Homo sapiens: one gene and its partners. The protein of the gene in region 3 purifies or fractionates together with the protein of the main gene of each other region. This does not show direct contact. Each region holds a gene or a part of one and is shown on either strand. Other genes may lie near its edges.

Region 1 (3,500 bases), on a different chromosome or scaffold from region 3:
TAATTTATGGAAACTATTGTATTAACATTTAGATCTAGTTCCTAACAGTTTTTTTTTTTTTAACACATTGAGACCATGCTTGTCTATACATAGTATTTTGCCCTCCAGAGACGAGGGAATATGTCTTATGCCACTGCCTGTGGTGCTGTGTGTACCGCTTATGCAAAGCAAGCTTTCAGTGAGCATTTTAATAAATAAATAAATACTGCTTTTATTTATCATTATATTGCAAACTCTGCGGCCTTAAAGGCATTATAAACATTTGCTGCCGATTTAGATCATCATTGTAGTCCTTGCATCTGGAACAGTGACAGAATAGGGACTCAAATGATTTGTTGAATAAATAACCATATCCTGTTGTTGAATGTTTATTAAGCATTTGAAAATACGCTCCACCTTTTCAGTATCAGGGAATTGAAGACAGTAGTGAAACATGTCATGCTGGTGAACCTTAAAAGTTGGATAACAAGTTGTGTGTATGTGCTTGTGTGGTGCACATGTATGCTGCAGATGGGAGTATAAAATGGTACCAACACTTTGGAGGAGTAACTATCAGTACCCAGTCAAGCTATGGGTGAACAGAGCCTAAGACCCAGCTGCGTGACTCCTAGGTATATATTCTAGAGAGGGGGATCTGCAAACTTACCCTAGTAAAGGGCCAGAGACTAAGTACGTCAGGCTTTGTGGGCTGTGTGGTTTTTGTTGCATCTATTCAACTCTGCTGTTATATAGCCTGAAGTCAGTCATGGGCAATATGTAGATGAATGAGCAGGCTGAGTTTCAATAAAACTTTATTTATGAAAATACAGCTTTAATTACGAAGTAGACTGGATTTGGCCTGAAGACCATAGTTTATCTGTCCCTGGCCTAGAGACTGACTTCTGCATGTGTGTGTTAGGACATGGGTCCCCAACCCCCAGGCCAGGGATCGAGGACTTACAGCAGGAGGTAAGCGGTGGGTAAGTGAGCTTTACCGCCTGAGCTCCGCCTCCTGCCACATCAGTGACGACATTAGGTTCTCATAGGAGCACAAACTCTATTGTGAACTGCACATGTGAGGAATCTAGGTTGTGCGTTCCTTACGAGAATGTAACTAATGCCTGATGATGTGAGGTGGAACCGTTTCATCCCGAAGCTATCCCCACCCTTCCCTGGTCCGTGGAAAAATTGTCTTCCACAAAACCAGTCCCTGGTGCCAAAAAGGTTGGGGACCTCTGTGTTAGGATACCTGTGTTGGCGCGTTCATTGCAGCATGGCTTGCAATAATGAAAAACTGACAGGAAGGGATCTTGGTCTATTAGCAGCAGACCAGATAAATAAACTTTAGTCACATGATGGAAAGCTAAACTGTAGTTAAAATGAACTAGATCTAGATGTATTTAACATGGCTGAATCTCAAAAATACAATATTTAGTCAAAAAGCAAGTTGCAAACACGTAATTATGGCATAATACCATTTGTATATGTAAATGTTAAAGGCATAAAACAGTCCCATATATTGCAGATATGTGTGCAGTGCACTTGTAGCTCCTGGGCAGGAGTGAGATGGCAGCTAGAGGGTAGAGGCCACCTCTGGTGAGGGACTCAGGTAGCATGTGGTTAAGAGTCTGGGCTTTTGTACTCCTGGAAGCCTGGATATAAATCCTGGTTTCACTGCGCTGTCACTGTGAGTTTCGGTAAGTTACTTAACCCTTCTGAGCCTTAGTTTCTTCATCTTATGTAAAGTAGGGATAATTGTACCTGCCTTGTCAGATTTTTGTAAAGATTAAATAAGATTATTTTTGTAAAACGCTTAAAGAGTATGAAACTCAGTAATCCTTAACTCAATAAATGGTATATATATATATATTTTTTTTTTTTTGAGAGAGTGTTACTCTGCTGCCTAGGCTGAAGTGCAGGGGGCAATCTCGGCTCACTGCCACCCCTGCCTCCCGGGTTCAAGCGATTCTCCTGCCTCAGCCTCCCAAGGAGCTGGGATTGCAGGCACCTGGCACCATGCCTGGCTAATTTTTTTTATTTTTAGTAGGGACAGGGTTTCACCATGTTGGCCAGGCTGGTCTTGAACTCCTGACCTCAGGTGATGCACCAGCCTTGGCCTCCCAAAGTGCTGGGATTACAGGTGTGAGCCACCGCACCTGGCCTGAATGGCGTTTTCATTACTTTAGGGTATACTTAATCACTTTTTCCTGCTTTATTTTCCTATGCTTTTTCTGTTGCCTTTCTCAGAAAAGCATTACTGTGAAGGGTGGGTGGTGGAGCATGTTGGTATGGAGAGAATGTCCACACTGTACCTGGTACTATGCTGGGAGCTCAATTCATTTCATTCCTTAGATATCATGGAATCTTCATAATATGTGAGGCGTAGAGTATATTCCCATTTTACAGATGAGGAAACTGAGGCTAAAAGATTAACAGATTTGTCTGAGGCTACATTTACAGGCTAGCAAACCAGATCTACTGATCCTTAAGCCTGTGCCTTGCCCACTCTGCCCCGTGCCTTGCTTTTCCTCTAGTGAGGGTCTACTGATTTCCGTGCTTTCAGCTCAGATCATCTTATCTCGACTTAACGCCATTCTCTAAATTAGAGAATATGAAGAAATTGTGACTCTCAGAGGTGGTGTAACTTGCCCAAGATCACAGAGTCTAGTAGGTAAGAGACAGAGTTGGAACTCATATCAGATTCTGAAGCTACTGTAGTGAGGTTCTACCAGGAAAAATAAAAAGAAAGAAAACTATGATTATGCTGCTCTCGTAATTTAGTGTCCAAATCAGGAGTAATGCCCAGTGTTCTGAATGTGATGAATTTTGAAAAATACCTTTTGAAAGTTCTGGAAGGGAATTTTAAAGTATCATTTCTGTACTCTTTCTGGGTTGATACTTTGGAATATGAATTTGTTTGTATGGGTTTTTTTGGTGGAGCATTAGATGCGTGTAAACTGACTTTGTAAGATAGCCTCCTAACTCCCAGTTCCTAGTGTTACTCTGCCATATAACTTTGCAGTCAGCATTTTCTGCCCCAGATGGAATCACCACCGTCTATCACATATGAAATAATGATTATCATTAAAATTCATTCTTGGATGTGATTTTCTAATTTTCAGGAGTAGCTCTCTGATTCTGAGTTAATTTCAAGTGATATTTGTAAGAACTACCACTGCATATTGCAGTTTTTGAAAACTAAAGTGTGAGAGAGATTAACCATGTGTAAACAGTTACTTGTGGATCCGCAGGATTCATTTTAATATTCAACTTATGAAGAGTAGTCTTTTATTATTATTAGGAGTTTCTCACTTCACTCTATAGGAAGCAATTGGGTATTTCCTTAAATATTTAAACTGGTAATCAACTTTCTTAAAAATGGAAAAGAGCATAGTCATTAAGAAGGGTGCCAACGTTTGGCCTTGATGCCAGCTGCCTATTACACCTATTCATCTAAAAATTAAAGAAGCAGCTAAGTTTAATTTTGATAAACCGTCAGCTGCTGTCAAGAACAGGCAGGT
Region 2 (2,712 bases), on a different chromosome or scaffold from region 3:
GCATGTTAAAGAGAACACACCCTTAAGCAGGTAAAATAAGCATATTCACACACACATACTAAGCTTTTAAAAGTGTACTTATAACTGCAGCAGCTGCTAAACCAAAAATACATGCATCTTATATTTTGTAATGGAGAATGGAATATTCAGTGATTACAGTCATTTCAATTCTACAAGTTTTTTTGTTTGTTTGTTTTTTGTTTTTAAATCAATGGCTGAGCAAAAACTGAAGAAACAAGTAACCAATCTCTCTAGCTTTGTTATATACATCCAGCTAATGCCATCAAAGATGGCACTAGGTTATGTTCACACTGATTACATGGCCTTACCCTACCCTTGTTTAGTTTGGCTGTTTAGTAAATAACTTGTTTTAAATTGTGATTTAGCCGGGAGCAGTGGCTCACGCCTGTAATCCCAGCACTTTGGGAGGCCTAAGCGGACAGATCACAAGGACAGGAGATCGAGACCATCCTGGCTAACACAGTGAAACCCCGTCTCTACTAAAAATACAAAAAAACTTAACCAGGTATGGTGGCACATGCCTATAGTCCCTCAGGAGGCTGAGGCAGGAGAATCGCTAGAACCCGAGACGTGGAGGTTGCAGTGAGCTGACATTGCGCCACTGCACTCCAACCTGGGCAACAGAGCGAGACTCCATCTCAAAAAAAAAAAAAAAATTGTGATTTAAGTTGTTGCCTGCCTTATGCCCTCAATGAAGAACATAGGTATGCAAAACTATTGAGCTGTTATCTATTCTCAGTGACTGACATGATTTGTTTACAGAAGACAAAAGCAGATAGTATATCTGCATAGTGTTTTTCAAGGGCATTTCTAATAGAAATCTTACAATGGCTCAGTGAAAAAGGCATTACTACTATATCTTCTTTATTCATATAGTGTCACAGCAATTAAGAAACCTGCTTAAGTGACCCAGCTAATAAATACAACAAGCTGGGTCTTGAACCCAGGTCTCTGAATGCAAATCAAATCATGGTCTCACTATAGTTAAGACTAATAAATGAAATTAATAAATTCTGGATGATAACTCTTTCTAACTTTTGAATCCCTTATGTCTCTGGCATCCTTAACCTTAAGATATTCTTAACAGCTAATTTCAAAGGGATACCCATCTGGTGTACATCCTTTTCATCTACTGTATCTCTTAATTTCTAAGACTTACATCATCATATGGGAAATTCACAACACCTTGCTGAGCAGTATCCCGTCTTCGAAAGCTGTCTGTAAAACAACACAGTAAAATTTATGGTTTTTCTTTAAATGGTTTTTCTAAAATCATAAAAGTTAGTTATTTTGGCATTGAATTCACATTGCAGTAACATTTAAATTGTGCAACCAATTAACATAAACAAAAGACCAAAGCAAAGAAGCCAACTATATGAATAGTAAAAGATTTAATATGCAACAAAGTAACAGGCAGAAGTTGGCCAGCTGTGTTTTTTGTTTTTTTGTTTTTTTAGATCTGGAGAAAATACCTTACCCAAAGTCAGTAAAAGCTGTGCAACTTCCATGGCCATTACTTCATTGTGATAAAAGCACCGAATTTCTAGCTTCTTAATAACAAAGATACTGCTTAAGAAACAGATAAAGAGTCCCCAATATAACAAATGGGCTGTAATCAGTTTCTCTACCATTTCAGCTCTGCCCTATAGAAAAGGATTTTATTTTAATTTCACTCTTTCCAAATATTTCACATTCTGGGGAAAAATTCATTATTATCTGATCAAAAATGCACAAGTTAGCTGATTGTGTTTTAGAACATTTTAGTAAAATTTAATTGTTTATTTTAATGGCAGATTACTTACTAATCTAAAATAAATTCTGGAAAAAAAACCAAAAAATTATTTTGCCAGATATGCTTAATAGTAATCTGAAAAAAACTACTAAAGCAAGAAAAAATTTGGGAAGAATAAAAGTTGAGAAGCACTGAGAGATGAAATGTAATAAAAACTGTGTCTTGGCTTGTGGTGATGACACGACCTTATAGAACTCACCTGTAAGAGCCCTCAGTTTGACGCAGCAGGCGATGTAGTCGTCGAAGGTGATCTTTCCATTGGTGCTGTATCGTTTTGCAATTGAATTCACAGCCTGGGGACTCAACCTAAATCCTAAAAGAAAAGCCATCCAGTAAAAAGGTTAAAGGATTGCAGAAGCTCATTAAAAAATAAAATAATCAAGCACTATTTTATTTTTTAAGACTGCAGACTCATATTAATTATGAACACACACAATTTCTAAGAAAACAGAAACTGCCTTCAGGTAGCAATTATTTATTTATTTATTTATTTACGAGAGGGAGTCTCACTCTCGCCCAGGCTGGAGTGCAGTGGTGTGATCTCGGCTCACAGCAACCTCTGCCTCCTGTGTTCAAGTGATTCTCCTGTCTTAGCCTCCCGAGTAGCTGGGACTGCAGGTGCATGCCACCACGCCCAGCTAATGTTTCTGTATTTTAGTAGAGTCGGGGTTTTACTGTGTTGCCCAGGCTGGTCTCGAACTCCCGAGCTCAGGCAATCCACCCTCCTTGGCCTCCCAAAGTGCTGGGATTACAGGTGTGAGCCACTGCACCCAGCCTGGTTTTAAAAATAAAAATCAACTTACTTCTACCAATGAATGGAGAGTTCTAGTAAGCCATACCTACCCATTGTTGTCAGGGCCTTCTGCAATTCTTGTGGGTCTACTGTTCCACTCCTGTCA
Region 3 (3,500 bases):
CGTCGTGTGTCACAAAGCCCATGTAAATGTGGCAGGGATCTGAACCCCAGTCTGGCACCACCAGCTAGCTCCCCTGTGTTGCTCATTCCCCTGGGGCTGAGATGGAGAACCCAACAGGATTAAGGTGGTGCTCTCATTAGGCTGAACCACATGAAACTGACACCTGTGTAGGTTCAAAAATGGTTGGATATCAGCTGTTTCCTATGGTTCCGGTAACACCAACATTGCTTTGCAGGATTCCATGCAACAGGGACCTTCTGTATTCACCAAACCTCTCTGGAACATCGACTCTGTGCCAGGTACTGAGCTAATCTTCAGGATGCATGAAGAGCAGGGACAGTCCTTGCCCTCAGGCCATCCAAAACAATGCTGGCCCATGGTGAGCCCAAGCGGCTCCAAACCCAATCTGTAGCCATGGGAATGCTCTTCAGAGAGCTCTCTAGGGGCAGTGGTCAGTTTCTTGCACTCTTGAAGGCACAAGAGAAAGGGCTGGGGAGTTCCTGGTTGCTCACGGCTGTTAAGTGCGCAGGCTGCCGAGTCTGAATCCCGGCTGGGTTGTTTCTTGAGACCTTGGGCCAGGTTCCATTTCCTCCTCTGTGCAATGACAGTATCTACTTACACGGGATGTTTGAAAGACTCACACTAGCGTGACCACTGACCAGCCTGCTTTGTGGGGACTCCTCCTCGCATTATACAGAGCTTACCCACAGGCTTCTTGCCTGAGGAAATCCAGCCCACAGGCAGAAGGCTCTGCCCTACCCACTTCTGTTTAATCCCCCTTCCACCCTCAGTTCTCCAAGCTTTGGTCCCTGGAAGAGACTTTCCTTTATGCAGCCCCCGACTCTGCCTTCATTCCACCATCCTCAGGGGCATGGGTAGCCCTGATCAGGACCATCCCTCTGGGTTTTTCTCTCATACTGGGGCCTGCCCCCCAACATTCCACAGTGACCCCCCACACCTCTAGTGTTGGATTGAGAGCTGTTTGGGCAACCAGGGTTCCCAATGAGCTAGGGAGAGTCACTGCCCAAAGCACAGGAGGGGAAGGGCCAGTATTATGGTTCTGCTTAACAGACAAAGTCACCGAGGCAAGTGGAAGTCAAATCTCCTTCCCCACCTCATGCAGTGGCCTTTAAAGGCAAGGTCAGGCTGAGCGGGGAGGGTCACCTGAGCCCAGGAGGTTGAGGCTGCAGTGAGCCATGATTGTGCCACTGCACTCCAGCCTGGGCGGTAGAGCCAGACCCTGTGAAAAGAAGGCAAGGGTAGGGAAAAGGGGGAAAGGAGGGAAGGGAAAGGGAAGGAAAGGAAAGAAAAAAGGAAAGGAAATGAAAGCAAGATAAATTAAAAAAATAAAAGAAAGGTCAAGTCCAGGGCACTGCTCAGGGCGTAGAGGCCGCGCCCCCGACGACCTCCTGCCCCCTTCCCCCGCGTTACCGTCTCGGGGCTCGGGCTCGGTGCCGCGGAACCTGCCAGTGGCTCGGGAGTCCACCACCTGGAAGCGCCGGGATTCCAGGTTCTCCTTGATGTCCTCGTAGGTCTTGATGAAGGCGGGGTCGAGCTGAGCGCGGAACTCGGCGGGAGCAGGTTGGCTCTTGCCGGAGCTGAGCGGGAGGTTCTGGCGCAGCCAGTGGCGGAGGCCGCCATCAAGCAGTGACACGGCGTGGTGGCCGAAGGCGCGGAACATCCACCAGACGCGCGGGGCGGAGTAGAGGCCCTGGTCGCTGGCGTCGTAGATCACGACGTGGGTGGCCGCGCCCACGCCCAGGCGGCCTGCGTACTCCGCGAAATGCTCGGCCCCGGGCAGCATGTGGTCGTAGGGCGAGGTGCGGTCGCTGCACTGGTCGATGTCGAAGAAAGCGGCGCCCGGGATGTGGCGCTCCTCGAACTCGCGTCGCGCGTCGCGCCCCAGCTTCGGCAGGTACCAGGAGGCGTCCAGCAGCTGCAGAGGCTGCCCAGCGCGCGGGGCCCGCAGCGCCTCCGCCACCCATTGCGCCGACACCAGCGCGCGGCAGAGCTGCGGCGAAGCCATGGCGGCGACACTCGGGCTGCGGGCCTGGGCGACAGGGAGGATGTCAGAAGGGAAGCAGGGAGAGGCCGCTGTTGGGGCTAGGGCTGGGGCTGGAGCATGGGCGAGGGCCGGCGGGGGAGGTGCGGCCCGTGCAGGGCAGAGTCCAGGGAACGCAGAAACCAGTGGTGGTGAACCCGGGCACAAAGGTGGGTAGCCAGGGGCCTCCCTCTGCCAGGCCTCATATAAACACAAGCTCCGAGTGACCCAATGACCATGACCTCCCGGAGAGCCCCAGGCCACGCCCCTCACCTCCACTTGCTGGGCAGGAGGGTGGGTGGAGGTATCCTAGGGCAAGGCCCTGCTGGCTTCAAGGCACAAACAGGGGCAAAGTCTCCACCCCTCCCTAAGATGCAGCTCGGCTTTATTTGCAACCAAGTCCCAGACGGAAGTCATTCATTCACTCATCAAGCATTTATATTGGCGACCTAATAGGAACAGTAGCTGGAATTTACTGAGTCCTTGCTGGGTACCACTGAATCCTAACAATATCCTAGAACAATGCCTGACACAGTAGACTCTCCAGTATGTGTTGAATGAGTGATCTTAAGAGGCCTGGTATATTATTGTCACCGTTTCAAGGAGGACACTCAGGCTCACAGAAGTGCACTAACCTGGCCTGGTGCGGTGGCTCACGCTTGTAATCCCAGCACTTTGGGAGGCCCAGGCAGGTGGATCACCTGAGGTCAGAAGTTTGAAACCAGTCTGGCCAACATGGTGAAACCCCGTCTCTACCAAAAATACAAAAAATTAGCCGGGCTTAGTGGAGGGCACCTGTAATCCCAGCTACTCGGGAGGCTGAGGCAGGAGAACTGCTTGAACCCAGGAGGCGGAGGTTGCAGTGAGCCGAGATCGTGCCATTGCAATCCAGCCTGGGGAACAAGAGCAAAACTCTGTCTCAAAAACAAAAAACAAACAAGAAAAAGTGCACTAGCCTGACCCGGCGGTGCCAGGCTTCTCACTAGGCAGTCAGTCTGGCACCAGAATCCGGACTTCTCAGACACACACTCTGTGCAGGCTCCAGGAGTCTGGCGAGGCCAGGTTTTGCCTGTCCAGCCTGGGCTCTCTCTGGCCCTTCTAGCAGCAGCAACAGTGACTTCGCACCTCCCTCCCTCTCCTCTCTATCTTTCCTGCATACCAGAGACAGTGCACCAGCTCGCCAGCCCACTATGCCAGGCCAGCCCACAGCCTTCCTGGGTGTAAACTTCCCAAACACTTTAAGCCCTTTGTGCTGGGAAGCCACCGTTGTGCAGGTGAGAGGAAAGGGCCCCTTCTGCCAGGCAGAGGCTGAGCCCCCACCAGGGCACATGGCTGGGTGTGTGGAGTATGGGCTGCAGATCAGCCCTCACTTATCCCCTGTGTGAGGCCCAACCTTGACACCCACTGCATGCAGTCCTGCCAGCGAAATGAAGGGGGCAGGTAGAGAACAACATCTGTG
Region 4 (3,500 bases), on a different chromosome or scaffold from region 3:
TATAAGAATTTGGCTTCAGGCATTTGCTATTGAGGTTTTAAAAATGTTTAAATATCTTACTGTAATTTTTTTGTTTTGTTATTTGGGACAATGCAGCTGTTTTCTCCTAGGGTATAATTAGTTGAGAATGGAAAAGTTTAGCTTATATTTGGAGAGTTATACTTCTTATTTCCATTATAAAATTTTCAGTTTTTTTCCTAATTTGTGTCTTTGCTTATTGGGTCCTCTTTATGACTTTTGGGGAGAAAGCCTCCTAGACTGAGGTAGATATTAGATAATTAGCTTTCTCTTTCTCCTTGGAAGTCAGTGAGTTAAGTAACAAAAATCATACAAAAGTTATATGATTTGTAAAAGTTATATACAGTGGAAGAGAAAATGTTAGTTTGAGTAAGGTACAACGATGAAGTCATAAATCAGATTTAAGCAACAGAAAATTATTTATTGCTTTGTTGCCCAGGCTGGAGTGCAATGGCGTGATCTTGGCTGACTACAGCCTCCACCTCCTGGACTAATGCATTTCTCCTGCCTCAGCCTCCTGAGTAGCTTGGACTATAGGCAATCACCACCATGTCCAGCTAATTTTTTTTGTATTTTTAGTAGATATGGGGTTTCACCATGTTGGCCAGACTGGTCTCAAACTCCTGACCTCAGGTGATCCCAAAGTGCTGGGATTACAGACATGAGCCACCACACCTGGCCTAGAAAATTATTTATCTTGGGCATTGATTAAATTGCATTTCTAGACACTCGCCGTCAGTAGACTAAAAGATTTTTTTCCCCTCTGAATAAGAAAACCGTTCGTTCAAGGAACTCAATATTAATTAATTTTTGCAAAACATCCCTGTTTGTTTTGTTATAACAAAACAGTATAATTTTAATATGCTCTAATAAATATATTGTATACAATACAATATGCTGTGACAATATACTGTAATAAAATTACCAGCACCACTACTCTCGTGCTTTGTGGCCATTCTGAAGCAAAATAAAGGTTAACTGAACACAAGCACTGCCATATCAAGACAGTGGATCTGCTAACTGAGAAGGCTACTAAGTGACTAATGGTGGGTAGTATATAGAATGTGGCCACACTGGGCAAAGGGATGATTCATGTCTTGGACAGGATGGAGCAGGACAGTGCAAGATTTCATCAGGCTACTCAGAATGGTATGCAATTTAAAACTTATGAATTGTTTATTTCTGGAATTTTCCATTTAATATTTCTGGATTCAGTTGACTGTAGGTAACTGAAACTGCAGAAAACAAAACCGTGGATAAAGGGAGATTGCTGTGTATATGATCCTCAGTGACTGGCTTTTCCTAGGTGTCTCCTCCCTCTCCCCTGCCTCCTAACAGTGATGTTCTATCCATGCAGAACCATCTTTGTATATTCTAAAATATAGTCCCTTGCTTTTATGTGTGCTGTTCCTTCTACCTTTTCCCCTCTTGTCCAGTTAGTGATGTACTTCTCACTTTTATAATGCTTTCTTTTACTCCCTCTTCTATGACATTACCATTGCTTCTGTTTATCTCTGTTAAAACCTCATTGCATTTTAATTGCAGTTTATCTATTTGTCTCTTTCCCTGAGTTAAAAACTGAGTATCTTGATGAAAAGAACTTTGTTGTATCCATCCATTTATTCCCCATACATAGCACATTGTCTGAAGATGCTTTGTAAATGTTTGTAGAGTGCAGGAATAGTATTATACATATGAAAACACAAAAGTCTGAAGGTGATATACATATCAATGATGATGCTGCTCTAGGTATCACAATCAATTGTGCTTCTGGTTAGACTGGGCCCCATGTTTCCTGGCTCCCTCAGTCCAATGCTCTGCCACTAAAGGGAATTAATTTTGGTTCTTAACAAAACATCTTTTTGTTTTTTTCTTTACAGATATTGATGATGTTAAGAAGTTCAAACCGGGTTACCTGGAAGCTACTCTTAATTGGTTTAGATTATATAAGGTACCAGATGGAAAACCAGAAAACCAGTTTGCTTTTAATGGAGAATTCAAAAACAAGGTGAAGATGAGAATCTTTATTTTAAAATGTACCTCCTGATACCTGTACAATATTCGTTTCACTTGGGAAGTTTCTTATGTGAATATGTATATATAGCATGGTTAAAAAAGTGCTTTTTACTAACTTACATATTTAAAAACATTATTTTATTATTTAAATTCTGTTTCAGAAGATCTAAGTGAATCAACAAGGCTGAAAAATATATATTTCCATCTATGTGTCTATAGCTCCTACGTCTTGGAAAATGAAGGAATTTCATGATCAGACTAATTTTGCAAATTGTGTACATAGAAAAACTTTCTATTTACTGTTTTGTGGAGGAGAAAGTTACTCACCCTTAATGTAAATCCATAGGGGACTCCCTCCTAAGTGTTCATTCTACCACGACGGAACTAAGCTGCTTAACAATTGAAAGGACACCTGAATTATCTTACTGTCATAGGATTTTTCTATTAGAATACCACTGAGTTACCACAAAGTATCTCTAATATGACACAGATGGAGAGAATAGACCAAAGAGTTAAAGTCTAAAGCATGGAATTTTTTTTAAAGTTATTACCACTAGGTAAATTGAATATTTGAAACCAACTTTTAAGTGGATACCAGTAAGTATGTTTTATAAGTGAAATAAGGCATGTTAATGAAAACTTAAAATTTATAATGGGTATTTTGCTGTAAAAGAATTGATTGCTGGACTCAGTGTTTTTTTGAAAGCACATTAAAAGAATCCTTCAAATCTTGAGGGCTTTGTCTGGGATTATTAAATGTAAATATAAAATTATTATTTTAGATTAAATTATCTTAAAGGATTGAAAATTTATACATTATTTTTCTTTTAAAAATTTTCATTTTATTATTGAGATAATTGAAATTTTAAACCTATATGGTATTTTTGCCTCAGGGTAAGTCTGCCAAGTCACGAATTTGTAAAGAATGAGGTAGTTTTTTTTTGTTTGTTTTTAACAAATAGTAATTCTTTTCTGTATAAAGATGAGGTCATTTATACAACTTCACCAGAAAATAATTGTTTTATGCATTGCTTTTTACTACTGCTATTTAAAATATAGAGCCTTAGTGCCCTTAGTATTGCTATGAAAGAACTGCTGAGGCTGGGTAATTTATAAAGAAAAGGTTTATTTAGCTCACAGTCCTACAGGCTATACCAGAAGCATGGTGCTGGCATCTGCTTCTGGTAAGAACCTCAGAAAGCTTCCAGTCATGCCAAAAGATGAAGGGGGAGCAGGCATGCCACAGGGTGAGAGAGGAAGCAAGTGAGAGAGGTGGAAGGTGCCCAGGCTCTTTTTAACAATCAGTTCTTGTGGGAACTAACAGCAAGAACTCACTCATTACTCTGAGGAGGCACCAAGCCATTCATGAGGGATCCACCCCCATTATCCATACACCTCCCATTAGGCCTCACTTCCAACACTGCGGATCAAATTTGAACATGAGATTTGAGAGGACAAATCCCCTC

Evidence for each region. The genes of interacting proteins can lie anywhere in the genome.
Region 1: the proteins of MPST (region 3) and GLRX5 fractionate together in Homo sapiens (co-fractionation; one large-scale study listed by BioGRID). This does not show direct contact.
Region 2: the proteins of MPST (region 3) and SRI fractionate together in Homo sapiens (co-fractionation; one large-scale study listed by BioGRID). This does not show direct contact.
Region 4: the proteins of MPST (region 3) and PPA2 fractionate together in Homo sapiens (co-fractionation; one large-scale study listed by BioGRID). This does not show direct contact.

What each region holds. Positions count from the first base shown.
Region 1 is NC_000014.9:95,538,050-95,541,549, forward strand, and holds part of GLRX5 (glutaredoxin-related protein 5, mitochondrial precursor), read left to right. Parts: intron 1-3,500.
Region 2 is NC_000007.14:88,207,327-88,210,038, forward strand, and holds part of SRI (sorcin), read right to left. Parts: coding exon 2,657-2,712; intron 2,127-2,656; coding exon 2,013-2,126; intron 1,240-2,012; coding exon 1,181-1,239; coding exon of another isoform or gene 1,163-1,180; exon of another isoform or gene 869-1,162; intron 1-868. UniProt on the Homo sapiens protein: Calcium-binding protein that modulates excitation-contraction coupling in the heart. Contributes to calcium homeostasis in the heart sarcoplasmic reticulum. Modulates the activity of RYR2 calcium channels.
Region 3 is NC_000022.11:37,022,742-37,026,241, reverse strand, and holds part of MPST (3-mercaptopyruvate sulfurtransferase), read right to left. Parts: intron 2,491-3,500; exon of another isoform or gene 2,315-2,490; intron 2,051-2,314; coding exon 1,432-2,050; intron 1-1,431. UniProt on the Homo sapiens protein: Transfer of a sulfur ion to cyanide or to other thiol compounds. Also has weak rhodanese activity. Detoxifies cyanide and is required for thiosulfate biosynthesis. Acts as an antioxidant.
Region 4 is NC_000004.12:105,397,563-105,401,062, reverse strand, and holds part of PPA2 (inorganic pyrophosphatase 2, mitochondrial isoform 1 precursor), read left to right. Parts: intron 1-1,898; coding exon 1,899-2,026; intron 2,027-3,500.